4 linked regions of the Homo sapiens genome follow. The protein of the gene in region 1 purifies or fractionates together with the protein of each later gene. This does not show direct contact. Each region holds a gene or a part of one and is shown in the gene's direction. Other genes may lie near its edges.

What was found.
Region 2: the proteins of TMEM259 (region 1) and RNF185 purify together in Homo sapiens (affinity purification with mass spectrometry; 4 studies listed by BioGRID and IntAct, with this or other methods). This does not show direct contact.
Region 3: the proteins of TMEM259 (region 1) and TMUB2 purify together in Homo sapiens (affinity purification with mass spectrometry; 3 studies listed by BioGRID and IntAct, with this or other methods). This does not show direct contact.
Region 4: the proteins of TMEM259 (region 1) and TMUB1 purify together in Homo sapiens (affinity purification with mass spectrometry; 3 studies listed by BioGRID, with this or other methods). This does not show direct contact.

Annotation. Positions count from the first base shown.
Region 1 is NC_000019.10:1,018,124-1,025,774, reverse strand, and holds the start of TMEM259 (membralin), read left to right. Parts: upstream 1-4,651; 5' UTR 4,652-4,778; coding exon 4,779-5,003; intron 5,004-7,651. UniProt on the Homo sapiens protein: May have a role in the ERAD pathway required for clearance of misfolded proteins in the endoplasmic reticulum (ER). Promotes survival of motor neurons, probably by protecting against ER stress.
Region 2 is NC_000022.11:31,156,071-31,163,187, forward strand, and holds the start of RNF185 (E3 ubiquitin-protein ligase RNF185), read left to right. Parts: upstream 1-4,111; 5' UTR 4,112-4,233; intron 4,234-7,117. UniProt on the Homo sapiens protein: E3 ubiquitin-protein ligase that regulates selective mitochondrial autophagy by mediating 'Lys-63'-linked polyubiquitination of BNIP1.
Region 3 is NC_000017.11:44,183,042-44,189,990, forward strand, and holds the start of TMUB2 (transmembrane and ubiquitin-like domain-containing protein 2), read left to right. Parts: upstream 1-3,930; 5' UTR 3,931-4,068; intron 4,069-4,161; exon of another isoform or gene 4,162-4,634; 5' UTR 4,635-4,667; coding exon 4,668-4,702; intron 4,703-4,865; exon of another isoform or gene 4,866-4,960; coding exon of another isoform or gene 4,961-4,968; intron 4,969-5,893; exon of another isoform or gene 5,894-5,980; coding exon 5,981-6,547; intron 6,548-6,949.
Region 4 is NC_000007.14:151,080,581-151,088,093, reverse strand, and holds TMUB1 (transmembrane and ubiquitin-like domain-containing protein 1), read left to right. Parts: upstream 1-4,600; 5' UTR 4,601-4,660; intron 4,661-5,074; exon of another isoform or gene 5,075-5,330; intron 5,331-5,500; 5' UTR 5,501-5,530; coding exon 5,531-5,919; intron 5,920-6,193; coding exon 6,194-6,545; 3' UTR 6,546-7,009; downstream 7,010-7,513. Other genes in the region: FASTK (fas-activated serine/threonine kinase), read left to right, coding at 7,328-7,409. UniProt on the Homo sapiens protein: Involved in sterol-regulated ubiquitination and degradation of HMG-CoA reductase HMGCR. Involved in positive regulation of AMPA-selective glutamate receptor GRIA2 recycling to the cell surface.

The DNA of each region.
Region 1 (7,651 bases):
ACTAAAAATACAAAAATTAGCCGGGCATGGGGGCACATGCCTGTAATTCCAGCTACTGAGGAGGCTGAGGTGGGAGGATCACTTGAAGCCAGGAGGCGGAGGTTGTAGTAAGTCGAGATCGCGCCACTGCACTCCAGCCTGGGCGACAGAGCAAGACTCCGTCTTAAAAAAAAAAACAAAAAAAAAAAACACAAAAAAACCCTAATAATAATAAATTATTAAAAAGTCTCCGGGACAGTCTCCTGCCAGGCAGTGCTGGCTCTCAGGAGACCTTAGCTCTGGCCCAGCCCATGCCCAGGAAGACAGAGCTGGCACAGACCAACCCCCAACCCGGATTCCCTGTATGAGCCAGCACAGGCGGAACCCCCCCACCCCGCCCACCCTGTTTCCCTATATGAGCAAGTACAGGACAGAATGAGAGGCTTGGGGCTGGAGGAACTGGAGGGAGAGTTGGGGCTCTGTCGGAGGAATCAAGGAAAGCTGCATGTAAGAGGAGGCAAGGGAGATGGGGTTTTGAAGCATCAATAGGAGTTTGACACATTTTATTTTATTTTATTTTATTTTATTTTATTTTATTTTATTTTATTTTATTTTTAGTAGAGATGGGGTTTCACCATGTTGGCCAGGCTGGTCTCGAACCCCTGACCTCAGGTGATCCACCCGCCTCAGCCTCCCAAAGTACTGTGATTACAGGCTTGAACCACTGCACCTGGCCGACCCATGTCATTTTAGACCAGTGCTGACCATTTCTGTTATTCTGAGATGAAGGAAATTTTCAATGTGGCACTATCTACTACTGTAGCCACTGGCCATGGGGCTACTGAGCACTGGAAGTGTGGCTGGTGCCATCAGGGAAGCAAATACTTCATGTTCTTTTTATTTTATTTTATTATTATTTTTTGAGACGGAGTCTCGCTCTGTCACCCAGGCTGGAGTGCAGTGGCGCAATCTTGGCTCACTGCAAGCTCCACCTCCTGGGTTCACGCCATTCTCCTGCCTCAGCCTCCCCAGCAGCTGGGACTACAGGCACACCTCCACACCCAGCTAATTTTTGTATTTTTAGTAGAGACGGGGTTTCACTGTGTTATCCAGGATGGTCTCGATCTCCTGACCTCGTGATCTGCCCGCCTCAGCCTCCCAAAGTGCTGGGATTACAGGTGTGAGCCACCGCACCCAGCAAATACTTCCTATTCTTAAATTTCAATTAAAAATTAAAAACTGGCACTAGATTCCATTTTTTGAAGACACATATATATAAATACACATATATATGTAGCTGGGACTCCGAGTAGCTGGGACCGTAGACACGCACCACCACGCCTGGCTAATTTTTGCATTTTTAGTAGAGATGCGGGTTTCACCATGTTGGCCAGGCTGGTCTTGAACTCCTGACCTCAAGTGATCCGCCGGCCTCAGCCTTCCGAAGTGCTGGGATTATAGGTGTCAGCTGCCGTGGCCGGGCTATTTCAATTAATTTCAGTTAAAAATTAAAAACTGACATGATTTCCGTTTTTGACTATATATATATGTACACACACATTAAAGTTTTCAAATACATAAATACACACATATGTACACATTATACATATAAATGTAAATATATAGATATTTGAAACAGGGTCTTGCTCTGTCACCCAGGCTGGAGTGCAGTGGTGCAAATATAGTTCACTGCAGCCTCGACCTCCTGGACTCAAGTAATCTCCTGCCTCAGCCTCCTGAGTATCTGGGACTACAGGCATGTGCCATATGCCTAGCTAATTTTTAAATTTTTTGTAGAGATGGGGTCTCCCTATGTTGCCCAGTCTGGATTCAAGTGATCCTCCCGCCTCAGCCTCCCAAAGTGCTGGGATTGCAGGCGTGAGCCACCGTGCTCAGCCTCGTGTATATTTTAAATACCTTAGCGTTTCTGAATTTTCCTTTTCAGTATAAACGCTGTAAATCTAAATACTGTGGAGATAAGTATTTCTGAGGAAGCACTGGTATCCATATTGGAACACCCCATGGATGGGAAACACACCAGATTCTGAAGACTTGGTACATCTCAGTTACTTTTTTTTTTTTTTTTTTTTTGAGAAGTAGTCTCGCTCTGTCACCCAGGCTGGGGTGCAGTGGCGTGATCTCGGCTCACTGCAAGCTCCGCCTCCCGGGTTCAGGCCATTCTTCTGCCTCAGCCTCCCGAGCAGCTGGGACTACAGGCGCCCGCCACCACACCCAGCTAATATTTTTGTATTTTTAGTAGAGACAGGGTTTCACCGTGTTTGCCAGGGTGGTCTCGATCTCCTGACCTCGTGATCCGCCCGCCTCGGCCTCCCAAGTGCTGGGATTACAGGTGTCAGCCACCGCGCCCGGCCACTTTTTTTTCGTTTATGAGGTGGGGTCTTGCTCTGTTGCCCAGGCTGGAGTGCAATGGTGCCATCACAGCTCACTGCAGCCTCCAACTCCTTGGCTTAAGCAATCCTCTTGCCTCAGCCTCCCAAGTAGCTGGGACCACAGGCACACACCACCGTGCCCAGCTAATTTTTGGTATTTTTCGTAGAGACAGGATCTCATTATATTGCCCAGGCTGGTCTTGAACACCTGGGCTGAAATGATCCTCCCGCCTCAGCCTCCAAAAGTGCTGAGATTACAGGCATGAGCCACCGCGCCTGACCTTGTTTGGATAACTTGAGATGTGTAAAATATATTATTAAAATTAATTTCACTTGCTCTTTTTTAGTTGTTTTACTGTGGCTACCAGAACACTTAAAGTTATGTTTGTTATTTGCTTATCTTTCTCTTGGAAAGCTGTGTTCTTGACCTGTGGGCCAAATCCAGCTGCAGCCTATTTTTGTATGGCTTGTGAGCTAAGAATGGCTCTTACATTTTTAAGTGGTTGAAAAAAAAACCCAAAATATGAAAACCATTCTATCAAACGTGGAAATTACATAACATTCAAATTCCAGTGTCTGCAGACAAAGCTTTATTGGCACACAGCTGTGCCCATCCATTTATGTATCATTTACGGCTGCGTTTTCTGTACAACAGCAGAGTGGAGTAGTTACTCTACCCAAAAAAGCTAAAAATACTGACTGTTGGCTTTTTTACACTTTATTTTTTAGAGACAGGGTCTCACTTAGTCATCCAACCTGGAGCGCAGGGATACGATCATGGCTCACTGCAGCCTCCAACTCCTGGGCTCAAGCAGTCCTCCCACCTCAGCCTCCCAAGTAGCTGGAATTACAGGCATGCACCAACGTCCTCAGTTAACTTTTAAAAACATTTTTTTGGGGGGGCCGGGCGCGGTGGCTCATGCCTGTAACTCCAGCACTTTGGGAGGCTGACGCGGGTGGATCACGAGGTCAGGAGTTCAATACCAACCTGGCCAAGATGATCAAACCTGGTCTCCACTAAAAATACAAAAAAAATAGCCGGGTGTGGTGGCGGAAGCCTGCAATCCCAGCTATTCAGGAGGCTGAGGCAGAGAATTGCTTGAACCCAAGAGGCGGAGGTTGCAGTGAGCCGAGATCACGCCACTGCACTCCAGCCTGGGCGACAGAGTGAGACTGCGTCTCAAAAAAAAAAAACAACACAAAACTTTTTTTTGGCGGGCTTGGTGGGTCACACCTGTAATCCCAGCACTTTGGGAGGCCTAGGCGGGCAAATCACCTAAAGTTAGGAGTTCGAGACCAGCCTGACCAACATGGAGAAACCGTCTCTACTAAAAATATAAAATTAGCCTGGAGTGGTGGCGCATGCCTGTAATCCCAGCTACTTGGGAGGCTGAGGCAGGAGAATGGCTTGAACCCGGGAGGCGGGGGTTGCAGAGAGCCGAGATCGCGCTTCTGCGCTCCAGCCTGGGCGACAGAGCGAGAATCCATCTCAAACAAACAACCAAAAAACCCAAAAACCATAGTATCCTCTTGTGTACGCAGCCGGCACTCAGTAAGTGCCCCTGAAGAGCACTTATTTATTCATTGCTGCGCGAAGCTACGGGGGCAGGTGGCACAGCGCCACGCAGGAGTAGAGACTGCCAGATTGTTCTACCGCCAACCTTAGTGGCGCCACAGGAGATGGACACGGGAAGACTATGACGTTACTGGCCCTGTGACGTCATGGCAGGATCCGGGCAAGAGAAGCCAAACGAGGTGACGAGCTGTAGACTACAGCAAAAATATGGAACGCTTCACGAATTTGCGTGTCATCCTTGCGCAGGGGCCATGCTAATCTTCTCTGTATCGTTCCAATTTTAGTATATGTGCTGCCGAAGCGAGCACGACTCAAGGGTTACTGTCACACCTATTTTAAGCCCTTCAATCAAATCATCTTTTGGTTAGGATAACTTATGGTCGGTTTCATATTTAGCATAATTTCCTACAGTGGTATGTTGCAGAACAACTTTCGTGCTTACGCTTACTTTGATGTCTTCGATCACGTAAAATCCCATATCTTATCGTAATTTTACCGCCTTATACTGGCCTCATAGCCGCGGTGGATTGTGGGTGCCAATATGCAAAAGAGGTGGCCCAGATGCAGGCCCGCCCCCTGGAGCGGCCGAGGTAGGGGGTGAGGCCTCCGCGGGCGCCGCTGGCATCCCAGCGTTCTCTGCGGGCGCAGGGGGGCCGCTCTTGCCCGGCGTGGCGACTCGCTAGCGTCAGCAGCGCCGCAGCCGGACGAGAAAGCGGAAGATGGCGGCGGCGGCCGGGAGGCCGTGAGGAGAGCGGCGGCTGCGAGGGCGGCCGATGGCGGCCGGGAGGCGCCCTCGGACACTTGCGGGTCGTTAGGGCGCGACGCTGGGAGGCATGTCGGAGCACGTGGAGCCCGCAGCTCCGGGGCCCGGGCCCAACGGCGGCGGCGGCGGCCCGGCCCCCGCGCGCGGGCCTCGCACCCCCAATCTCAACCCCAACCCCCTCATCAACGTGCGCGACCGGCTCTTCCACGCGCTGTTCTTCAAGATGGCTGTCACCTATTCGCGGCTCTTCCCGCCCGCCTTCCGCCGTCTCTTCGAGTTCTTCGTGCTGCTCAAGGTGACCGCGGCCCCGACCCCCGACCCTTGACCCCAGCGGCTGTCCCGACCCCCAAGTCTGCTACCTCCGACCGCGACCCCTGGCCCCGCTGGGGACAGCGAGCGCCACCCTGCACCCTGAGGCCTATACCCGGCCCTACCGATTAGGGCTCTCCCTCGCGACCTCTGACCCTGGGATTGGCCAGGGACACCGTCTCGTGACCCCATCCCGCCCGGGGACGTCCACCCGGGAAGGCCGGATCCCGCTGCACTAGAAGCCGCTGTTCTCTACTCTGGAAACCTCACTGTCAGCTCCCTCCAGGGCCCATCCTGTCCCCGGCGACCGCCTTTCCCAGGTCCCCACCTACCCAGGCTTGGAGTCCGGTCCTGGCCTGCGAGGTAGCACCTCCCGCCCTTTGACCCCTGACTGTGCCGCCTGAGACCCTCAGTTCCGAGGCCTCTCTCCCCTCCCAATGTGCTGGCCCAGAACCCAGCCTGACGCAGGTCTCCCTCGGACCAACCCCTGTCCTGGAAGTCGACTCCCCACTCCCCTCTCTCCCTCCTTGTAGCCTTTCAGCTGCGTTCCCCGCTCCTGAGCCTCAGGGGAATGTGACTTAGCTGAGGTCACCTCGCTAGGGTTAGCGGCAAAGTCACCGGCAGCAGCGTACCACCCCATCCCCGGCCTCTTCCTCCGCTGGGTCCCCACTCCCTTCCTGCTTCAGGAGCTCAGGTTGTGGGTCTGTCGCCCGTGCCTCCCCTATGAGGCACCGGCCTCCGCGTCTTGGGCTCTGTCCCCCTCCCGCCCTCCTCAGATGGCAGAGGTCTCAGCCGTGCAGGACAGGCATCGGCCTGACTCCCTCTGAGAAGGAGTCTTGCTTGGGTGACAAGAGGGGCTCAGTAGCAGCTGCAGCCCCTCAGAAAACAAGCTGGCCGGGGTCCTGGGCCACCTGGCGAAATGGGGACGTGGCCGTTTTCGTTCTGCATCAGAACACCGCCGCGCCGGGGCTTGGGGGCTGCTGAAGTTGCGCCGTGAGCTTTTTGGATCTAGCCTGCAAAGAGGGGTCCGATGCTGGCGGGCCAGGCTGCGATCGTGGGCAAGTTCCCAGCCTGACACAGGTTGGTCAGGAGCTGGCTGCTTTTTTGGGCTCGGCAAGTGGAGCTGGACCTTGGCCGTCCTGCGGACCTGGGTGTGGGTCCCAGCCTGCTGCCACTTCACGGAAGGCCCCCCAGCCTCCAGATCCGTGCCTCCCCAGGCCAGAGCTCAGCCCATCATCCTTCCCACCTTCCTCCCTGCAGCCCCCCAGAGTGGCATGGTCGCCTCAGTAGGCACCTGAGCAGGGCTGTGAAGGGTTACGCAGGCAGGCGGCCTTTCCCGGCTCTGGGGTCCACAGACGGGGCCTGAAACTGTGGACGGAGGCTGGTCTGTGGACGTGGGTTTTCCTTCCATGGAGTAGCCTGGGAACAGGATGGAGCCACTGTGTCCTTAGGCTTGTGGAGGGTGTGTGCTGGGTGCCAGGCCAGGTTCCCCCGACGGAGCTCAGCCTCCTTGGGAGGTGCATCCCTGTCGCCTGGGCCCTGGTCCCACCATGTCCCGGTTTGGAAAGGGATCAAGCCTACCCGGCTCCATCTCCAGGCCAATACCACTCACAGGTGGTCAGATGGGGCTGGGCCAGAGCTGGAGTTCCCCGTCTTCTGTGTAGGGTGGAGACTCTTGGGAGGTTCTCAGTAACCCCAATCCCTCCTCTCTCAGCAGAGGGCTTTGGACTGTGAGATCTCTGGGTGGTGAATTTTTTTTTTTTTTTTTTTGAGATGGAGTCTTGCTCTGTCACCCAGGCTGGAGTGCAGTGGTTTGATCTCGGCTCACTGCAAACTCCACCTCCTGGGTTCAAGCAATTCTTCTGCCTCAGCCTGCGGAGTAGCTAGGATTACCGGTGCCCACCATCACAACCGGCTAATTTTTTTGTCTTTTTAGTAGAGACTGGGTTTTGCCATGTTGGCTAGGCTGGTCTCAAACTGCTGATTTCAGGTGATCTGCCCGCCTCGGCCTCCCAAAAGGCTGGGATTACAGGCGTGAGCCACCATGCCTGGCCTGGGTGGGGAAATCTGTTCTTTGTGAATTTTCCACCCGGTAATCTGGTGGCACAGAATCTGACCCTGCTGCCTTCACTTTTACTTATCTGCAAAGTGCAGGCTGGAACTGCCTGATTTCAGAGGCTGCCTTGAGTTCCAGAAGGCTCCTCTGCTTCCTGCCTGCCTGGCTTCCGGGGGTCTCCCTGCAGAGAGCCAGGTCCTCCCTGGTATGATCCCTTCAAGGTGGCTTCATCCTGTGGCATCTGTGCAGCTGAGCTCCCAGCCCTGAGCTGGCATGGAGTCCCCCAGCTCTCACCCATGCCTGGGTGGCTTTAGGAAATGCCAGGATCTCCCAGCTCTGAGCCAGCATGGAGCCCCCCGGTCCCTCATCCATGCCTGGGTGGCTTTAGGAAATGCCAGGCAGTGCCAGGTGCTGGGGAGAGAGGAGGCGGCAGGGGCCTGTGTTCCAGGGGCCCTCGGGAGACCTCCATCCAGCCTCAGTATCCACCTCTGCTGGCCTTCATGGCCCTGAGCCCAGTGTGGCAGAGACTGTCCATCTTGGGGCACTGGGTGCCTGCACCTGTGCGGTTGGGCTCTGGA
Region 2 (7,117 bases), on another chromosome or scaffold:
CCCAATTGGTGGGCCCATGGGTGGTTTCATACCAGGTGGAGGAAACATAATGCCTAGAGGTGGGGCTGCTCTGCCAACAGGTGGGGGTGGAGCCCCCGGTCCTGGTGGGTACTGTGTTGGGGCTCCAGTAATGCTCTTCTCTGTGGAGTCATTACCTGCTGGGATGGTCCCCCAACTCCTGGGACGGGGCCTGCTAATCCACCAGGAGCCTGGGGAATTGGTACACCAGCTGATACTCCTCTACCAGCTGCCCTAACAACTCCAGGGCCTCCTGCAGCTCCAGCAAGTGGTACCCGAGCAATGCCAGTATATTTTGGGGGTAGCCCCTCCACAGTCATGGATACCAAGTTCTCCCCATGCAGCAACACCAGACCCCAAAAGTGCTTTTCTTCGAGCTCTGGTTGCTTCACGTTCTTTGGCTTGATCTTTCTGAACTCATCACAATCGCAGAGGATCAAATTCACATGCTTGTCAAACGCCTTAAAGATGCCAAAGAAGATTGTGCCTTCCTGTAGGATGCATTTCATTCTATAGTCAATGTGCTGCTGCAGCCTTGCTACTCGTGCCCACAGTCGTGATTGCTGCTTCACCAAATCCCGTGTCCACAGTTAAAACTTCGTGCTTCTTAAGACCTGGGGGAAAGCTATAGATAAAGGTATGGTGCAGGTTCTCCCAGAAACAATGCAAGCTGAGGGGGAAACGTGGTGGCTCACGCCTGTAATCCCAACACTTTGGGAGGCTGAGGAGGGCAAATCACCTGAAGTCAGGAGTTCGAGAGCAGCCTGGCCAACATGGTGAAATCCCATCTCTACTAAAAATACAAAAATTAGCTGGGTGGTAGTGGCATGCACCTGTAATCCCAGATACTCAGGAGGCTGAGACAGGAGAATCGCTTGAGCTAGGGAGGCGGAGGTTGAGGTGAGTCAAGATGGCATCACTGTACTCCAATCTGAGTGACAGAGTGAGGTGCTGTCTCAAAAATATATGTATAATTTTTAAAAGTATATTGAAAGCATTGGGTGAGGTGGCTCATGCCTGTAATCCCAACACTTTGGGAGACCAAACTGGGAGGATCCCTTGAGGCCAGGAGTTTGAGACCAGCTTGGGCAACAGCAGGACCCTGTCTCTACAGAAAAATAAAAAATATTAGCTGGGTGTGGTGCGTGCCTGTAGTCACAGTTATTCAGGAGACTGAGGTGGGAGGATCACTTGAGCCCAGGAGTTGAAGCCTGCAGTGAGTTAGGATGGTGTGCCACTGCACTCCAGTCTGGACCACAGGCTGAGACCATGTTTTTTTAAAAAAATAAAAAATAGATAATGGATCGATTGATAGAGAAAGCTCACTCTGTGATGAACCTGTTCCGAGTATCCTCATAACAACTTTTTGAGGAAGGAAGAAATTGGAACACACCTGTGGTTAAACAAGTTGAGTTTATCACTTGTTATGGGGTAAGGGTGAGAGGACATGAATCATGAGAAACAATAGGGCAGCTGGGCTTGGTGGTTCACATCTGTAATCCCAGCACTGTAGAAGCCCAAGGTGGGAGGAACACCTTAGGTCAGGAGTTCGAGACCAGCCTGGCCAACATGGTGAAACCCTGTCCCTACTAAAAATACAAAAATTAGCCGGGAGTGATGGTGGGCGCCTGTAATCCCAGCTACTTGGGAGGCTGAGGCAGAAGAATCACTTGAACCCAGGAGGCAGAGGCTGCAGTGAGCCGAGATCACACCACTGCACTCCAGCCTGAGTGATAGAGTGATACTCTGTCTCAAAAACAAACAAACAAACAAACAAACAAACAAAGGGGCATCTCAGTAACAAAGTGTTACAAAGGACACATAGGATTTGGGCTTGCATTAGGTGATTTGGACGAGGGCTTAAGAAAATGGGGTTTTCTGGATTGGATGCTGCCTATGAGTGAGTACCTTGATAAACATTATTTAGAAGGAGGGAAGAGTAGACCGAGGCTAAATCTATAATCTCTATACAAGCCAGAATAGGGAAATGTTTGGCCATTTTTGTAGTTCGAACAATGCTCATGTTTTGTCTGGGTTTAGACATGATTCAAGTGGTTTTGTTATTGTCTTGATCCATCATGGTCACATAGTGGCTTTGTTTGATGTTGATGTTCTGTGAAGTTTTTATGTTCAATAAGAGAACACACCAAGGTCTATTTGTGAGTGCCAGACCATCTCCTGGATGTCAGGGGCTGTTTTTCTCTTAGCGCTTGGTTTCAAATCCAGGTTTGTGTGACTGGAAACATCCCTTGTATTACTTCTTGATCACAGGAACTTGCAAAGGTGGCTGGCAGACTAGGACTTTCATCTATGAGCTTATTTCATCTACTATTTTTTATTTTTTTTTCTGAGATGGAGTTTCACTCTTGTCGCCCAGGCTGGAGTGCAATGGCACGATCTTGGCTCACTATAACCTCTGTCTCCTGGGTTCAGGCAATTCTCCAGCCTCAGCCTCCCAAGTAGCCGGGATTACAGGTGCCCGCCACCACGCCTGGCTAATTTTTGTATTTTTAGTAGAGATGAGTTTCACCATGTTGGCCAGGCTGGTCTCGAACTCCTAACCTCAGGTGATCTGCCTGCCTCGACCTCCCAAAGTGCTGGTATTATAGGCGTGAGCCACCGCGCCGGCCTTTATCTACTATGTTCACCTCCTACTCAGGTCCGATCCCTAACCGTTCCTGGGATAACTGTAGGTACTTAATAAATGCTTGTTGAATGAATGAAGATGGCTGTCAAGAACTCCAATGACTGCTTGAGTGCAAATCACAAGCTCCATCACCTATCAGTATGTGATTTGATACAATATGTATTAACAGCTAATCCACAATCCATATTCAAATTTCATTACTTGTCCCAATATTGTCCATTACAACTATTCCACCACCACCACTACCCCAGTCCAGGGTCCTATTTAGAATCACACACCACATTTTGTTGTCATGCTTCTTTAGTCTCCTTTAAACTGGAACAGTTCCTCAGCTTTTCTCTGTTTTTCATGACAATGAGTTATTTTGTAGACAGTGTCCTTCATTTGGGGTTCTCTAGCACTTCCTCATGAGATGTGTACGGTGCACTTTTGACAGAAATACCACAGATGTGTTCTCAGTGCATTTTATTAGGAGGCCCTTGATCTGACCCATTAACTAGTGGTGTTAACTTTGATCACTTTGATCTGTTTGTTCTGCTAGGTTAAACCTCTGTAACATCACCATTTTCCCTTTGTAATCAATAGCTAATTTATGGGAGACACTTTTGCTGTTGTAAACATCCCGTTTCTCTAGTTTTACCACACATTATTGATTTCCTAATTCCACCATGTTTATTAGCTAGCATTCTACTAAAAGGAAGACTTTCCCTTCACCCATTAATATGCTCACTTCTTTATGTTTGTAAAGACTCATGGATTACTATTTTATTCAATTAGTTATACTCTATTACTATCACTCCATATTTTGATTCTGAAATTGCCCTGACTTGGCCAGTAAGATCTCCTTAAAGACAGCTCCTGTGTTCTTTGACACATTCCCATGATTCTTATTACCATCATCCTTATATTCTGGTGTAACAAGATGTTCCAAGTTTATCTGGTACTTTCCGGAATGAGTTAGTTCTTTCTCTCTCTCTTTTTTTTTTTTTTTTTTGACGGAGTCTCACTCTGACGCCCAGGCTAGAGTGCAGTGGTGCGATCTCAGCTCACTGCAACCTCCGCCTCCCGGGTTCAAGCGATTATCCTGCCTCAGCCTCCCGAGTAGCTGGGATTACAGGTGTGCGCCACCACGACCGGCTACTTTTTGTATTTTGAGTACAGAGGGGTTTCACCATTTTGGCCAGGCTGGTCTCGAACTCCTGACCTCAAGTGATCCATCCGCCGCGGCCTCCCAAACTGCTGGAATTACAGGTGGGAGCCACCGCGCCCGGCCGGAATCAGTTTTTTTCTTTTAGGAGCCCCGAACCCAAAGCTCTTTGAAAAGCTGCCGAAGCTCCAAGGTTCCTCCGCTTCCTGCCCGCAGGCGGAACCTTAGAGCTTCAGCCATGGAAATTAACCTCTTCCGGTTGGGGCCGGAAGTCCCTCCGAGAGGGGCGGCTCCGCGTCATGTGACTGGAGTCCGCGTAGGAGGGGTCGGAGGTCTTACCCAACAGATTGACGCGGCGTTAGTATTGGCCGTGTACCCGAAAAACTGATTGACTGGGCTGGCGTTAACTGTGCGGAGGCAGGTATGTGAGGGGCTGGGGTTGGGGCGGGGGCGCCAAAGTTTAGGGACGGGGGCGGGAGACCCGGGTCCGCCTTCCCAGGACACACGGGCTTGAACATCTGAGCCCAGGGGCCCAGAGACAGCAAGACCGGTCGTGTCTGTCCCCGAAAAGAGGACGAGCTGGCGTTGTGGTTCTGCGTCCCATGAATACAGATTGGGGAAACTGAGGCCTTGCGAAAGAGAAGGGCTCCCACAAGCTCTCCTTTCGAGGCATGGGCACTGATTCCCATTCTATCCCCCGTGCGAGACCGCCTCTATCATCTGGGAGTGCATTTCACGAGTTTGCCCTGAGTGGAGAAGCAGAGGCCGGGGAGCGCGGTGAACAGAGTTGGGCTGAAAGTAAGAGACCTGGATTCGAGACTTCGCCACCGACAGACAATTGTGCGTTCTGGGCCAAATCTCTTCCCTGTGCTGGGCCTCAGTTTTCTCGTCTCTAAAACGGGGCAGTGTTTTTCAAAATATGGTTCTTACACCATCTGCTTTGTAATTCTCTGAGATGCCGGCTTTACAGCGCGGGACTCAATTCAGACTTCTGGTTTAGAATCTGAACTTATGCGTAGGGGGGTCCTGTATATACTAATGTTTGAAGCTCATTGATTTTAAGTGCTTTCCTGCTGTGAGCACTAGATATCCATTCTTCGCTTTGAGGCAGCTGGTGCCAGTTCAGGAACTTTGAAAGAACTGGAATGGTTAGCTCAGTAAAGAGAGCACTGGAAGGGAATTAACTTTTTAAAAATTGAAAATACTGTTACGGCAAAGAGGGCTTCCACTTCATCTTTAGGCTAAAAGAGGCAGAACTAGGACTAACAGGTGAATTCTACAGGAAGGCAAGATTTTTGCTTAATAGAAGAACTTAAATGGAAGAATCGTCAGAGGTGACCACCGATGGAGTGAATGGATTGCCTCCGTGCCTCCTTTCGAGGGAGGTATATAGGTATTAGATGAAGGTCCTTTCCAACTTGAAAGTCTGTGATTCCAAGGAGTTGTTCTGCATCTTTCTGGTGCTGACTCTGCTCTCAAGGCAAATGTGACTTTTTTCTTCTCTTTTGACACTTCCATCACTTTAGCCTACATCTCCTGTAAATAAGGCCAATGCATCTGACCTTACATAATCTCTTCCTGGTTGTCCTGTGCACCATCCTTCTTTTCAAGGACTTTGGAATGACCCAATATCTGATAGAGGCACCTTAAATGTTTATTGAATGAATAAGTAAACTGGGTCCCACCCCATGGGTTAGTAGCTTTTTTCTAAGAACAAGTTGGAAATGCCTCTGAAGATTTTATGTTTGACCAGGAGAAGCCAGTGAACTCTGAATCACAAAATTGAGGACTCTCAGTTGAAAGCACCCCTTGAGGTTGTTCAGACCAGCCTTCTCTTCCCTGGAACATAATCCCTGCTTGAATCCTCTCTTCAGCAATATGTGTATAGATGTGAGAGAATTTTTGCAGTCTGTTGGCTAGCTTTCCATGCATCATATAAAAACAGTCCTCTTATAGACTTGACTTGCCAGTTCACACACATGACAAGTTCCAGCTTTTTTTTTTTTTTTTTTGAGTATTTAGTAGAGATGGGGTTTCACCATGTTGGCCAGGCTGGTCTCGAACTCCTGACCTCAAGTGATCCGCCTGCCTCAGCCTCCCAAAGTGCTGGGATTTCAGGTGTAAGCCACTGTGCCTGGCCTCTAGCATACCTTTGGTTTTCTAATCAAACATTATTATGTCCTTATTTTGTGCATTACAAAGCTCTGCCTAAATCACTTTTTCAACACCTGCTAGAATGCTTAGGAATGTTTATGTTGTCTTAGGGAGCAGAGGCTCCATATTATGACCCAGTTCTGCTGACTTGCTCCCCCGCCGCCACAAAAGTTAGGGTTGAGCCAAAACTTCCTGCCAGTTATCGACTTGTGTTTCCCAAGATTAAAAAATAAAAAAGTTGTGAAATGCTTATTCAGATGTTATCCAGGTACTGGGTAAAATGATCTTAATTTGTTGGAGTTTTTAGAACTTCTCGATCTAAAAGTTTCCTTTTAAAGAAGTGTCTGAATTGACATTCTCATAAGTATGTTCTTCAGGCCACTGGTCTGAAGAAGTGGCTCTGAAAAAAGGATTTGATGCTAATAATAAGTTTGAGAAAGCCACATACCATTATTCTTTCTTGGAGCTTCTCAATGTGTAATACCACATTAAAACCACTGAGAGGTCCTGCAATAAGGAAATGTGCCTTATAAGCCAAGATAATAACTTGTTCCATTTGTTTAATCTACTTGATGTCAAATCTTTTTTTTTTTTTTAATTGAAGCACACGTTAGCAAATTCTGACCTAGAGTGGGGATCTGCATACTATATATAGGCTGTGAACCAAACCTGGACCTACTGCTTGTTTATATGGTCTGTGAGCTAAGGGTGCTTTTTACATTTTTCTTTCTTTTTTTTTTTTTTTTAAGACGGAGTCTCGCTCTGTTGCCCAGGCTGGAATGCAGTGGCTCCATCTCAGCTCACTGCAAGCTCCGCCTCCTGGGTTCATGCCATTCTCCTGCCTCAGCCTCCCGAATAGCTGGGACTACAGGCGCCCACCCCGATGACTGGCTAATTTTTTGTATTTTTAGTAGAGGTAGGGTTTCACTGTGTTAGCCAGGATGGTCTTGATCTCCTGACCTCGTGATCTGCCCGCCTCAGCCTCCCAAGGTGCTGGGATTACAGGCGTGAGCCACCACGTCTGGCCTGCTTTTTACATTTTTAAATGATGGGAAATAAAAGAAGAATAATATTACATAGGTGACAATTACAGGAAGATAAAATTTCAGTGTTCATTTCAGTCACACCCATTTATTTATATTCATATATAT
Region 3 (6,949 bases), on another chromosome or scaffold:
AGCTGAGATTGTGCCACTGCACTCCAGCCTGGGCGACAGAGTGAGACCCCGTCTCAAAAAAAAATAAAAAAATGAATAAAAATAACAGAAACACAAAGCCTCTCATAGACCCAGAACCTATAGTACCTATCACAGGAGGGAACTGGGGAGGAGCTCCCAGCAGTCTTCTCCTGAGTCAGCAGTCTTTTTGCTGAGGGATCCTAGGGTCTCCAGTCCCAATACCAGTTGGAGTTATACAGTGGAGACAGGGATCCAAAGTCCTGGGGTCTGCCTCCTGCTGCAGCTGCCCAACTTTCCCTCCTCCAGGAGAGTTATATCTTTGGGATTCCATTTCATCAACACAAAGACAGTTTTTTCACCTTGTTATGCAGAATGCAACACCCCCTTTCTGGATGAAAATTTGTGCTTTAGTTTTACAGAGCCAAAAGGCCTGACAGAAGAAAAAGAACTCCTCCCTAGAGAGGGAGGCTGGGAGCCTCACTCTCAGGGGCAATGCTGAACTTTCTACCCCTTTACAGCACGCCGACCACAGCCAGCTCAGCCTTTTCTGATATATTTACAACTACAAAAGATACCGTTAAAAAAGAAAAATACCTGGGTGCAGTGGCTTACGCCTGTAATCCCAGCACTTGGGGAGGCCGAGGCGGGTGGATCGCCTGAGGTCAGGAGTTCAAGACCAGCCTGGCTGACATTGTGAAACCCTTTCTCTACTAAAAATACAAAAAGTAGGCCAGGCGCGATAGCTCACGCCTATAATCCCAGCACTTTCGGAGGCCGAGGCAGGCAGATCACCTGAGGCCAGGAGTTCGAGACCAGCCTGGCCAACATGGTGAAACCCTTCCCTACTAAAAATACAAAAATTAGCCAGGTGTGGTGGCACACACATATACTCCCAGCTATTCAGTAGGTTGAGGCAGGAGAATCACTTGAACCTGGGAGGCGGAAGTTGCAGTGAGCTGAGATCTCCCACTGCACTCCAGCCTGGGTGACAGCAAAACTCGTCTCCAAAAAAAAAAAAAAAAAAATCAGGATACAAGGCCAGGTGTGCAAATCCTGTTGGTGGACAAATCGCCTCTTTGGGGGCAATTTGGCCACTTCCTTAAACACTGTTCCCAGTTACACAAAAGGCAGGCTACATACAGGAATATTCCTCTCAGCGTTGCTTGCAACAACTCATGTTGGAGTGGTTAGACAAATCCATATTACCCATGGCAGGAAAGAACTAGGGAGGGATTCCAAGTGACCAGCATGTGTACTGCCTTGGGAAGATCTCCCAGAGTGGTTTTTATTGATTGATTGAAACGGGGTCTTTCTGTATGCCAGGCTGGAGTGCAGTGACGCAATCACAGCTCACTGTAGCCTTGACCTCCTAGGCTCCAATGATTCTCCCACCTCAGCCTCCCAAGTAGCTGGGACTACAGGCACACACCGCCAGGCCTGGCTAATTTTTAAATTTTTTGTAGCGACAGGGTCTCGCAATGTTGCCCATGCTGGTTTCAAACTCCTGGACTCAAGTGATCCTCCCACCTTAGCCTCCCCAAGTGCTGCAATTACACTCTAGAGCCACCATGCTCAGCTGAAGACAATTATTTTCCTTTACATTTTTTTTTATTTTGAGACGGAGTCTCACTCTGTCTCCCAGGTTGGAGCATAGTGGCGCGATCACAGCTCTCTGCAATCTTGACCCTAGGGTCAAGCAATCATCCCACCTCAGCCTCCTGAGTAGCTGGCTCATGGCTCACTGCAGCCTTAACCTCCTAGGGTCAATCATCCCACTTCAGCCTCCTGAGTAGCTGGGACCACAGGCACACGCCACCATGCCCAGCTAATTAATTTTTTTTTAGAGATGGGGGTCTCACCATATTGCCCAGGCTGGTCTTGAACTCCTGGCTCAAGGGATCCTCCTGCCTCAGCCTCCCAAAGTGCTGGGATTACAAGTATGAGCCACTGTGCCCGGCTTTGTGAATGTACTTAATGCCACTGAATTGCAAACTTAAAAATAGTTAAAATGGTTTTAAGTTTTATGTTACGTATATGTATATATTTATCTTTAGAGATAGAGGTCTCCCTGTGTTGCCCAGGCTGGCCTTTAACTCCTGGGCTCAAGTGACACTGCTGAGTCAGCCTTCAGAGTAGCTGGGACTACAGGTGCATGCCACTGTGCCTAGCTATGTTTATTTTACCACAATGAAAGGACTTACAAAAAAGAAGCTAGACACCGAAGAGGATACACAGTTGGATTCCATTTATAGCAAGTACAAAAACAGGAAAAACTAATGTATGGTGACAGACGTCAGAATAGTGATTACTCTTTGGAGGTTAATGGCTAGAAGAAGACATGAAGGGGGAGATTCTGGGGTAATTCTTTCTTTTTTTTTTTTTTCCTGAGACAGAGTCTCGCTCTGTCACCCCAGCTGGCGTGCAGTGGCTCCATCTCAGCTCACTGCAACCTCCGCCTCCCAGGTTCAAGCCATTCTCCTGCCTCAGCCTTCTGAGTAGCCAGGATTACAGGCGTGCGCCACCACGCCCGGCTAATTTTTGTATTTTTAGTAGAGACGGGATTTCACCATGTTACCCAGGCTGGTCTTGAACTCCTGACCTTGTGATCCGCCTGCCTTAGCCTCCTAACGTGTTGGGATTACAGGCGTGAGCCACCGCGCCAGTCCTAATTATCTATTTCTTGATCTAAGTGCTACTTCTGCCAGTGTTCAGTTGGTAGAAGCCACCGAGCTTTTTGCTTATGTTTGCCCCTGTCTGGATTATTTATCCTTTAATCAGTAGTTCTCCAAAACCCCAAACTCCAGCGCTTTTTTTTTTTTTTTTGGAGACAAGGCCTCCCTGTCGGGTGCAATGCAGTGGCTCAGATCATAGCTCACTGCAGCCTCGAACTCCTGAGCTCAAGCGATCCTCCCACCTCTGCCTCCCAAAGCGGTGGGATTACAAGAGTAAGCCACTCCCCCCGGCCACAGTAAGTTTTTAGAAAAAATTTTAATTGCGGCCGAGCGCGGTAGCTCACGCCTGTAATGCCAGCACTTTGGGAGGCCGAGACGGGGGCGGATCACCTGAGGTCGGGAGTTCGAGACCAGCCTGACCAACATGGAGAAACCCTGTCTCTACTAAAATACAAAATTAGCGGGGCGTGGTGGCGCATGCCTGTAATCCCAGCTACTCGGCAGGCTGAGGCAAAAGAATCGCTTGAACCCGGGGGGGCGGAGGTTGCAGTGAGCCGAGATCGCGCCATTGCACTCCAGCCTGGGCAACAAGAGCGGAACTCCCGTCTCAAAAAAGAAAAAATTTTAACTGCAAAAATCTGGATAAGTTCTTGAAAGCTGGACTTTTCCCCCTTTTTGTGTCCTAAGCCTGCGCCGAATCTGTGCCTTCTTTGAAATGCTTTCCCGCCTTCTTTCTCCGGGTCCCACACTACCTGGGGCCGCACTCTTCAAGCACTGGATGCTGACTAACTGGTCTCCTTATCTGTCTTCCCGACTGGCCCAGAGCTGAGTTCTTACTAATCCCCGCTAACCTGGAGTTAGGTGCGCGTTGCAAAGCAGTAACGAATCCAATCAGCCGGGGAGGCAGACAGCAGGGCCGGAAGAACAAAGCTGGAAAGGGAAACGTCGCACCGGCTCTGCCCAGCGGCGCCAGCCCGGGCAACCTTCCGCAGTCGCGAAGCCACGCCCCTTTCCCAAGTACCTCCGCGCTAACTCCTCCCCCCTGGCCCCGCCTCTCACCCTGGATTGCCTAAGGCCCCGCCCACCAGGCGTGGCCCCGCTCTGGGAGGGCCGCAATCCCGCCAACAATGACTCCACCCCTCCTTCCGCTGAGAAACCTGTCCCTTTTATTTAAAGAATACCTTTTACGTCAGCCCGTCTTACGCAGCTTCGCGTCATCAGTGCAAGGCGCGGAGGCGGGACTTCCTGTCCCTGGTATAACAGCTTCCGGGAGAAGCCGGAAGAGACCGGACCCTGAACAGAATCGCAGATTGCCAGCCCTTTTCCCGACCCCTACGGAAAGACGAGTCCAGGGGCCGTCCTGGCGAGGTCAAAACATTTAGTCTGGTCTTTTCAGGTGAGGACTTCCCCATCCAGGCACAGTGCCGGTCCAATCCCCCTTTAATTTCCCATGACTCCTCGCGTCCTGAAGCCCCGCCCCCAGTTCCCCAGCCCCGCCCCGAAGTTTGAGGGGTGTGGACGGTTTGTGACCCCCTTAGCCGACCCTACTCCTCACTGGCCGGGACAACTGGTCTTATCACGGAGGCTGGGGCCAGGCAGCCCTTCGGTTCGGGTGGGCCCATGGACCCCAGTCCAACGCCGAGGGAATAGGACCATCCAAAAGCGGAACCTTCGCCTCAGAAAAAGGGTGCGGGACCCCTCCTCACCGTGCGGTCACGGTACGGACAGGGTAGATCACAGGCTGAGGGACAGAGCAAAGACCCCTGAGGCCGGACACCTGGGGTCCTGCCGGGCCCCTCCCCACGAGAGTTCCCTGTGTCTGTGCCAATCGTTTTCGTCTTTCTTTGCCGCAGTTTCTTTTCCTGTAAATCATGGTTAATAACATTAACCTTCTTACCATCAGGGGTTAGTTGTGGTTGTGATAAATAATTACTACCGTTATTAAGCAATTGCAATTTGCAGTGTGCCAGGCACTGTGCCAAGTATTTTGCTTCGATGATTTCACGTCATCTTCAAAACAACCTCATGAGGTAGGTACTGTTTTTAACCCCATTTTACTGATGAGAAAGCTGAGGCTCTGAGAAAGTTGTCTGAGGTGTTATAGCTAGTAAGACGCAAGACTGGGGTTATAATTAGTTGTTTTTCTAACTCCAGGGCCGGTATATTAAATAAGGATGTTGATGTGTTCCACAGATAATTCTTTGAGCAACTACTGGGGCATTATATTGGACACTTCAGTACCAAGAGAAATACATACGATCCTTGTCTACCAGGAGTCTAATAGAAAGATGGACAGGTACATAAGTATAATGAAGTTTTATAGGTGCTGTGAGAATAGTCTGATAATGGTAATCACCAGACTGGATTTGCCCAGGGACAGCTGTGAAAGCAGCAGATTCTCCAAGGGAAATAGTAGGTACTCCAAGGAGCAAGCAGGGACCCTTCCTGCCTTTCTAAGAAACTGCAGCAGCAGAACCTTCACAGTGAAAGAAGAGAGACTGAGATATGGATTGTGAGAGCTGTTATGGAATCTTTTTCAAATCACTCCACTTGGGGAGTGGTCATTGCAGGAGTGGGCCCATGGTGACCCAGGAAGGTGGTGCTTCTGGTGTCTGTCCCAAGTTGCTCCCCAGGGCTTGCCAGAAGTTTCAGAGGCGGCACATAATGTCTGCTGCATAGTATCTGCCCGCGGTCCCTACAGAGTTATCGTTTTAGATTTGTCTGACTCTGCTTTTGATGGTAGGTCAGTTTTCTTTGGCTCTTGACATCTGGCAGCCTGGATCTGTGACCAGGAATGAAATAGGCTCAAATGAGACAATCTGGCAGGGATGGCTAAACAGTGCTTCCAGGGGGGCCCCACAGTAAAATATTCCAGGCTTTTGGGTCTCTCTGAAGCCACTTTGGAGGCTGCTTAGGAGGCATATTTGCTTGACCAAGCGATAGAAATCCTAGAGAAACTCAGGCCTCAGCAAAGATTTTTCCTCATTCACCAAAAAAGCAACAACAGTAGCAGCAGCAGCAAGGCTGTGGGCTTTTCCTGCTGATCCACACTCATTGGGAAGTTGGAGTTTGAGAGAGGAAGGTCACAGAACGTGAAAGCAAGAGTTTCACAATAGAGGCAAAGGGTAGGGTAGGTCTTTAGGTTTAGGTTGGGGTGCCGGAATTAGGAAGGTTTGTGCCCCCTTCTACACAACACTGAACTCCTTTTTTTTTTTTTTCAGGGCTGGGTCAGTTAGAACCTAAACAAACTAGAGACCTGGTTGCAACCCCTCAGGCTCTGCTGATGCTGTCCCCCTTTGTTCCTGCAGCGTGGACCCTGCCAGCAGCCAGGCCATGGAGCTCTCTGATGTCACCCTCATTGAGGGTGTGGGTAATGAGGTGATGGTGGTGGCAGGTGTGGTGGTGCTGATTCTAGCCTTGGTCCTAGCTTGGCTCTCTACCTACGTAGCAGACAGCGGTAGCAACCAGCTCCTGGGCGCTATTGTGTCAGCAGGCGACACATCCGTCCTCCACCTGGGGCATGTGGACCACCTGGTGGCAGGCCAAGGCAACCCCGAGCCAACTGAACTCCCCCATCCATCAGAGGGTAATGATGAGAAGGCTGAAGAGGCGGGTGAAGGTCGGGGAGACTCCACTGGGGAGGCTGGAGCTGGGGGTGGTGTTGAGCCCAGCCTTGAGCATCTCCTTGACATCCAAGGCCTGCCCAAAAGACAAGCAGGTGCAGGCAGCAGCAGTCCAGAGGCCCCCCTGAGATCTGAGGATAGCACCTGCCTCCCTCCCAGCCCTGGCCTCATCACTGTGCGGCTCAAATTCCTCAATGATACCGAGGAGCTGGCTGTGGCTAGGCCAGAGGATACCGTGGGTGCCCTGAAGAGGTGAGTGGCCTGGGAAGTGGGAAGCTGCTTGTGCTCATCCCCCAGCCCTTGGTTGCCTCTAAGGAGGCTGGTGCAGACATGGGAGCTGCAGCAAAGTGTAAGATCCAGCCCCTACCAAGGGCAGGTAGATACTTTCTTAGAAATACACCCTTCAGGCCGGGTGCAGTGGCTCCCGGGACTTTGGGAGGCCGAGGCGGGTGCATCACGAGGTTAGGAGTTCGAGACCAGCCTGACCAACATGGTGAAACCCCATCTCTACTAAACATACAAAAATCAGCCGGGCGTGGTGGCGCACGCCTGCAATCCCAGCTACTCAGGAGGCTGAGGCAGGAGAATCGCTTGAACCCAGGAGGTGGAGGTTGCAGTGAGCCGAGATTGCGCCACTGCACTCCAGCCTGGGCG
Region 4 (7,513 bases), on another chromosome or scaffold:
CCATAACTCCATGTTATCGCAAAAGGCCTTGGCTCTCACTGCATTTCCACTGAGGCCAAACCCACCACCTGCCGGTGGGCGTCCCCTTTCAAACAGAGCTGGGGGAGGAAGCAGATGGCCCAGGGTGAGGCCCATCTGTCCGTGCCCGCTCGAAGGTCACCATGCCACCGGGGTGCCTGCGGGTGCCTCCAGCACCCACCACACCAGGGCTTGCGAGGCATCTGCCAGCAGCGTGCCACCACTTCCTGTGCCCTCAGCGGTCGAAAGTCCAGGGCCTAAGGGCCCAGAGAAAAAAGCGCTAGGCAGCGCAGTGGCCGGGGGTTTCCGGTCCCCGACTCCGGGTGCGGTGTCCCTGGCGGTCGGTCAGCACCCGGCTGCCCAGCAGCTGCCTCCAGACCGAGGAGCCGCGGATCCCCGTCAGGCTCATGACCCGGCCAAAGCGCGGATGGACCTGCCGGCGCCTCCCACGCGGTCGCTGAGCCTCAGCCCAGCGCCAGGCCCGGCCCGCTCCCGCTTGGCCGCCGCGGCGTAGGGGGTGTGCGTCGGGAGAGGGCGCCGCGGCGAGCGCCACCCTCCGGGCCTGCGGGCGCTGGGCCCGGGAAGGCTGCCATCCACTAACGCGAGGCTCCGATCCCCCGCCCCACTGCGGAGCAGGGCCCGGGCAGCGGCTAAGAAGCCTCCCCGGTCACGACCCCACCTCCCCGCAGCTGAAGCCCTCTGCCGCGCCCACCTTCCCCGGCCAGGCCTGGACAGATCTGGTCCCGGCCCCCCCAAGCGACACCACCTTCGCGCCCTGGAACACAGTCAGCAGAAAACCCCCAACCCCAAAGTGTCCCCGAACGAGATATGGCGAAGCTGCCCGCCGGTTCTGCAACACAGATCGGCAAACCTCGTGGCCTGGTCCTCAAGCGCGCAAGGACCCCCGACAGGGAGAGCATGGCCAGGCACGGCCTGTGGAGCCCTCGGCCGGCGCCGGAGAGGCCACTGCGCCCCGGCTCCCGCAGCCCCCGGCTCCGCTCACCCTCGATGGAGATGACGTGCTCCCGGATCTGGTTCTGCAGCGCCAAATCCTCGATGCGCTCGATCAGGTCGTAGATGGCGTAGATATTGGGATGCACGGACTCGAAGCGCTGGATCTCGGCCCGGATGGCCGCGGAGTTGGAGAGCGCGAACTGCTGGGGGGGCCCGCCGGCCAGCTGCTGCGAGGGGCCGCCGCCGCCCCCGGCCCCGGGCCCCGCGCCGCCGAACTGCCCGCCGCAGACGAGCTGCTGCGCGGCAGCGCCGCCGCCCCCCGGAGCCGCCAGGCTCTGCTGCTGCTGCGGGCTCTGCCCCCCGCCCGCCTGGAAGTTCATGGCTTCGGAGCCGTGGGGCCCGAGGCGGGCCCGGGGCGGCGCGGCGGAGGCGGCGGCGGCGGCGGCGGCGGCAGCGGCGAGCGGGAGCGCGGGGCTGGCGGGGCCGGGACTACTGGGCTGGCGGCGCGGGGCTAGCGCATGGAGCCGGGGGCCGGGGGCCGGAGGCCGAGGCCAGGAGGCGCCGCCGCGCACGCTGTGGCCGCCGCTGCCGAGCGCTTCCCAGCGCCGTGATCCCGCTGCCTCGGAGCAGCCTCCAGCGGCAACAACAACGGGACCGGGAGCGCGCGGCCCAGGCCCTCCCCCCGCGTCATGCGCACGCACCGCCGCCCCCGCCGGCTCCGGCACACGCAGCCCGAGCCCCCCTCCCCGCCGCCCCCGCCCCTCCTGCGCGCCGGCCCGGGCGCCCCCGCCCCTCGCTCGCTCGCTGGCTCTGCAGCCTCCACCCCCGAGCCGCGCGCTCCAGCCCTGGCGCCCCGGCCCCTCCCACTCAGCCTCGGCCCTTCCGCCTCCTCACCAGCCCCCACCCGCATTGCCTCGAGGGCCACCCTCGCGGAGGGGACAGCTGCCCTGGTCTCCTCCCGCGCCCGGCTGTCGCTTTCGCCTCCCTGCGCTGATCTGGGCGGGGTGTCGGATCTCTAGGCAATGCCCAAACAGTGCCCTGCGCCTGAGGGTGCTGCTGACCGAGGCTGATTGGCCGAGGAGTCCGCCCAGGCCCAGCTGCTCCTCGCTTACAGCGTCCCGCCTTCAGTGCGGCATAGGCTCCCCTGTCCCCAGGCTCCGAGGTCAGCCCTAGAGACCACCCTGCTGCCGGAGTTTTCTCCCTGTCTCCCTGCCCAGGCTCTCCACTGCCGGCTGCAGCAGTGCTCTCCTAAAAGACCCTCCCCCTGCCGGACTTGGGAGATTAGCTAAATGCTACCCGACCCCATTGGTACATAGAGGAAGAAGAGGGAGGGATGAAATAGTATATGCCTTTCTCCCCTACTCATCCCATTGGAGAGACCAACCAAAGCCCACGTGGCTCTCAATTTTTCTTGTCCTCACCCCTTGTCCATCCTGTCCTTTCACTCCCTCTAGGGCCAGGGAGCTCCCTGAAATGTCCCAGTTCCTCTGCAGTCCCATTGCCAAAGTGGGCTGCAGTTCTGTTAGCCCCCTCCCCCCCACCAACACACACACGTTTCCTAAAACCTACAAGAGGTGACATTTGCAGAGGCCGCAGCCAATAAATCTGCCAGAGATGTTGCAGGGTATCTGCTACCCCCAGATATCCTAGGGCATCAGTGACACACATCGTCCTTCTTACGCACACTTCCACTTCCCTGGCCAAGCTGGATCTTTTCCCAGCATGAAGCTGTCCACTGTTTGATTACCCACACAACTCAGCCCCAGAACCAACCCAGTCACTATTCCCGAGTTCCTTGTACCTTCCAAAGCACCTGGTGCAAGCTAATCAACACACAGGGTCTCCTAAGCTCCTGAGGAACCTGTGTTTCTATCTCCCTGCATAAGCTTAAGGATATCTTGTGCCCTCTCTGGGTTTCATCTGCGAAATATAGTGGTTGAACATAAAACCTAGTTCTGATGTTGTATAATTCTAAAAGTAACATCCAACATCTCTTTTAGGTGCTTAATTAGAATTGACAGCAGGAAGTAGCACCAGGTATACCTCCCAAGAGAGACACTAAGAGCAAAGAGCTCCTCAAATGTGTTGCCCCAGCAACTAGCACACACGTGTTATAGCACTGTTGGGCTGTTCACACGTCTAGCTCTTCTACTAGTATATGGAGCCACATGAGGGCAGGAAGAGGGTCTGATTCACCATTTTATTCCCAGTATCTTGCACAATGCCTGGGATATAGTGTGTGTGTGTGTGTGTGTGTGTGTGTGTGTGTGTGTGTGTGTAATTTTTTTTGAGACGGAGTCTCACTCTGTCACCCAGGCTGGAGTGCAGTGACTCGATCTCAGCTCACTGCAACCTCCACCTCCCGCATTCAAATGATTCTCCTGCCTCAGCCTCCCGAGTAGCTGGGATTACAGGCGCCCGCCACCACGCCCAGCTAATTTTTGTATTTTTTTTTGTAGAGACAGGGTTTTACCATGTTGGCCAGGCTGGTCTCGAACTCAGTGATCCGCCTGCCTTGGCTCCCAAAGTGCCAGGATTACAGGCGTGAGCCACTGCGCCTGGCCATAGTACATCTTTTAAAAAATATGTTAGTAGAATAAATGAATGAACAGGAGGGATGGAACTAGAGGTAGGTTAGTTCTGTATGGTATCAATCTAGACTGACATTCCTAAGGCAATATTTGGGCCACTTGCTCCCACAGTAGGCAAGAACCATGGGAAGACTAGGATAGATTATTTTAAATCAAGACTGGCCTGTAAAAACCAGGATGTGAGATCTCTGTGGCTACAGGAGCCCAGAGGGAAAAATCCAGATATCCACAGGCCTGGGATTCAATGCCATCCACACAGTAACACACCAAAGACCCGACTCCTGAGACCAGGTTTGGGTGGAGGTGAGCGAATAGCTACTGTGTGACATGTACCTTAGTTTTTACACTTTTTAATAAAACATCTAATTTCTTCCTTATGATTGACTTACGAGGTGTGTTTTAGAGAGGAAGAAATTAATGTTCAGAGAGATTCAATAACCCACCCAAGGTCATATAGCTGAGAAGCACAAGATAAGGGATCAGGATTTCTGCCAGGTTCCAAGGTCTATGCTTCTTCCACAGCCCTGAAGGGGCTGTGGAGTCCCGAAGGTGGAGGAGGGGACCAAGGAAAGGGGCAGCCCTGAGGATGGGTATCCCTAGCCAGCCTGGTGGGGCAGCCCATGGATATTGGGCTCTGGGCTGAAGAATTAATTTTGGTGGCCAAAGTGCCTTCTGGCGTCCACTCTGACATAACAGTAGGGGCCACCTGAGTTCCTCAGAGCCTTCCACACTGCATCACGAACACGGGTACTCTGACGTGCTCCAGCTGACGTCGGTGTCTGGTGTGATAGATGCCCTGGCTGTTGGCAGGGGAGGGGGCGGACGCTGCTGCCGCCCAAACCTCTAGGGGGTAGCACAACCCCCAAAACCGCCCCCGCCAGCCCCTTCGCGATCTGCAGGCGCAGAGAACCGCGGGTGGAGCCCCACACGTGGGTCCGCAGGGCGGAGGGCGGGGACAGCGCGGCGCCGGACTACAAGTTCCACAATGCCCCGGGCCGCGGCGGCGGGGAAGGAGGGGTGCTTCAGGTGCCTGCGACCTCCGCGCCTCCCGCCCGGAAGTGCCCGAGGGGCCGCGATGGAGCTGGGGGAGCCGGGCGGTGAGTCCCCGCGCCGTGACCGCGCCCACCCCGCCGCCCAGGGCCCCGGTCGGGCCGGGATCGCCGTGCCCTCCTGCGGCTTCGGGGGGCGGGAAGGTGGGAGGGGTGATGAGAGGTGGGGGTGGGGAACGTGAAGTCTCGGATTCCGGGCGGGATCTGGGGTCAGGCAGCCCGGGGGGCTTGGAGAGACTTCCAGAGGAGGCGCGGAGTTAGTCCTCCGCGGAGTGGGGTTGAGGGGACCTGGAGGGGGCCGAGCTGGGTGGGTGGTGACGCTCGGTGGCTCCAGATTGCCCAGGGGCGGAGTTTGACGTTTGCTGTGGGGGAAGCCTGGGAAGCAGTCCTGTGCCGCGGGTGGGGTTTAGGTGAACCGTAACGCGGGGGGCGGGGGTGGGGGCACAGAGGCTCTACCCCCACCTCTTAGAAACTTTAGCAGCGGAGTAGATGAGCCTGGGGTGAAGTCGGTGAAGGAGTAGACACACTGGGGTGAAGTGGGCAGGAGAATAGATACGCTTGGGGGTGAAGTTTGGTTGGGGTGAAGTTTAGGAGAGGCGTTGCTTAGGCCCTTACCTTGGGATAGGGTTTGGGTGAGTTGGGAGCTGGTTGAAGACCTCGAGCTCAGATGACAGAAAGTTAGGACTTGGGATTCGGCGATGGGAAGGGGCACCCGGAGGCAAGTTTGGGGCGACTGGGAGGCAGAGAAGCCGGTACCCTGGGGTGGGTGAGGGGACGGAGGCTGAGGACGGTGGGAGCGTCGCGGTGGGGTGAGGGCAGGACCCTGTGGAGGTTCCAGGGCTCCTGGCCAGGGGGCCCGGGCCTCACGGGCTCTTTGTGCCTCTCCAGCTCGGTAGCGCGGCGGGCAAGGCAGGCGCCATGACCCTGATTGAAGGGGTGGGTGATGAGGTGACCGTCCTTTTCTCGGTGCTTGCCTGCCTTCTGGTGCTGGCCCTTGCCTGGGTCTCAACGCACACCGCTGAGGGCGGGGACCCACTGCCCCAGCCGTCAGGGACCCCAACGCCATCCCAGCCCAGCGCAGCCATGGCAGCTACCGACAGCATGAGAGGGGAGGCCCCAGGGGCAGAGACCCCCAGCCTGAGACACAGAGGTCAAGCTGCACAGCCAGAGCCCAGCACGGGGTTCACAGCAACACCGCCAGCCCCGGACTCCCCGCAGGAGCCCCTCGTGCTACGGCTGAAATTCCTCAATGATTCAGAGCAGGTGGCCAGGGCCTGGCCCCACGACACCATTGGCTCCTTGAAAAGGTAAGTAGGTCAAGAGGCAGGAGCAATGCTAAAGACAGGGGTTGGGAGAGTGGTCGCAGAAGGCCCCCAGAGACACCTAAGACCCAGCCCTCCTTTATACTGGAGGCGCTGAGCGCCCCAGATCACAACTGTACTTGTTCCCCTGGCAGACGGCCCCTCCCAGGCCAGGGCCGGTGTGTTGTGGAGGGCAGGGGGAGGGTGGGAGTGCTGTTCCGGGGCCAGGGACTAGGATTGCCTGAGGCCTGCTCTCTTACCCAGGTCCCTCTCTCCTCAGGACCCAGTTTCCCGGCCGGGAACAGCAGGTGCGACTCATCTACCAAGGGCAGCTGCTAGGCGACGACACCCAGACCCTGGGCAGCCTTCACCTCCCTCCCAACTGCGTTCTCCACTGCCACGTGTCCACGAGAGTCGGTCCCCCAAATCCCCCCTGCCCGCCGGGGTCCGAGCCCGGCCCCTCCGGGCTGGAAATCGGCAGCCTGCTGCTGCCCCTGCTGCTCCTGCTGTTGCTGCTGCTCTGGTACTGCCAGATCCAGTACCGGCCCTTCTTTCCCCTGACCGCCACTCTGGGCCTGGCCGGCTTCACCCTGCTCCTCAGTCTCCTGGCCTTTGCCATGTACCGCCCGTAGTGCCTCCGCGGGCGCTTGGCAGCGTCGCCGGCCCCTCCGGACCTTGCTCCCCGCGCCGCGGCGGGAGCTGCTGCCTGCCCAGGCCCGCCTCTCCGGCCTGCCTCTTCCCGCCGCCCTGGAGCCCAGCCCTGCGCCGCAGAGGACTCCCGGGACTGGCGGAGGCCCCGCCCTGCGACCGCCGGGGCTCGGGGCCACCTCCCGGGGCTGCTGACCCTCAGCCCGCACTGGGAGTGGGCTCCTCGGGGTCGGGCATCTGCTGTCGCTGCCTCGGCCCCGGGCAGAGCCGGGCCGCCCCGGGGGCCCGTCTTAGTGTTCTGCCGGAGGACCCAGCCGCCTCCAATCCCTGACAGCTCCTTGGGCTGAGTTGGGGACGCCAGGTCGGTGGGAGGCTGGTGAAGGGGAGCGGGGAGGGGCAGAGGAGTTCCCCGGAACCCGTGCAGATTAAAGTAACTGTGAAGTTTTCACTCTTGCAGTGTGTCTGAGTGTGTGCGGGCTGGCGGGCGGGGAGTCCTCGCCCCTTGGGAGAGAAGGGCACGGACTGCGCCTGGGGTCTGGCCCTCCGCCTTCCCTTCTCCCCAGCGTTCTGCTCTGGCTTTGGCGCCGGCCTCCGTGGCCCCGCCCTCGGCGCCGGGCGCGCACTTCCCGCGGGCGGGGCTCGCGGCTCCCTGGCTCGCAGTGCCTGCCGGGAGCCACGTCTCCGAAGACCGATAGCTGCTTCGGGATTGGCGTCCGGGCGGCTATCTAGGGGCTGCTGGGAAGATGGCGGACTCGGTGGCTAGCCGATGAGGAGGCCGCGGGGGGAACCCGGCCCCCGGGCCCCGAGACCGACTGAGGGAGCGACCTGCGCAGGGCCCGGGGAGTCATGTAGGGGTGGCGCCTGCGGGGAGGGCTGCGGGAGGGCAGCGGGAGCTGGTGTTAGCGGCAGCGGCCACGGTCTCCTGGCGTCCCTGGGCCGGGGTGGGTGTTGG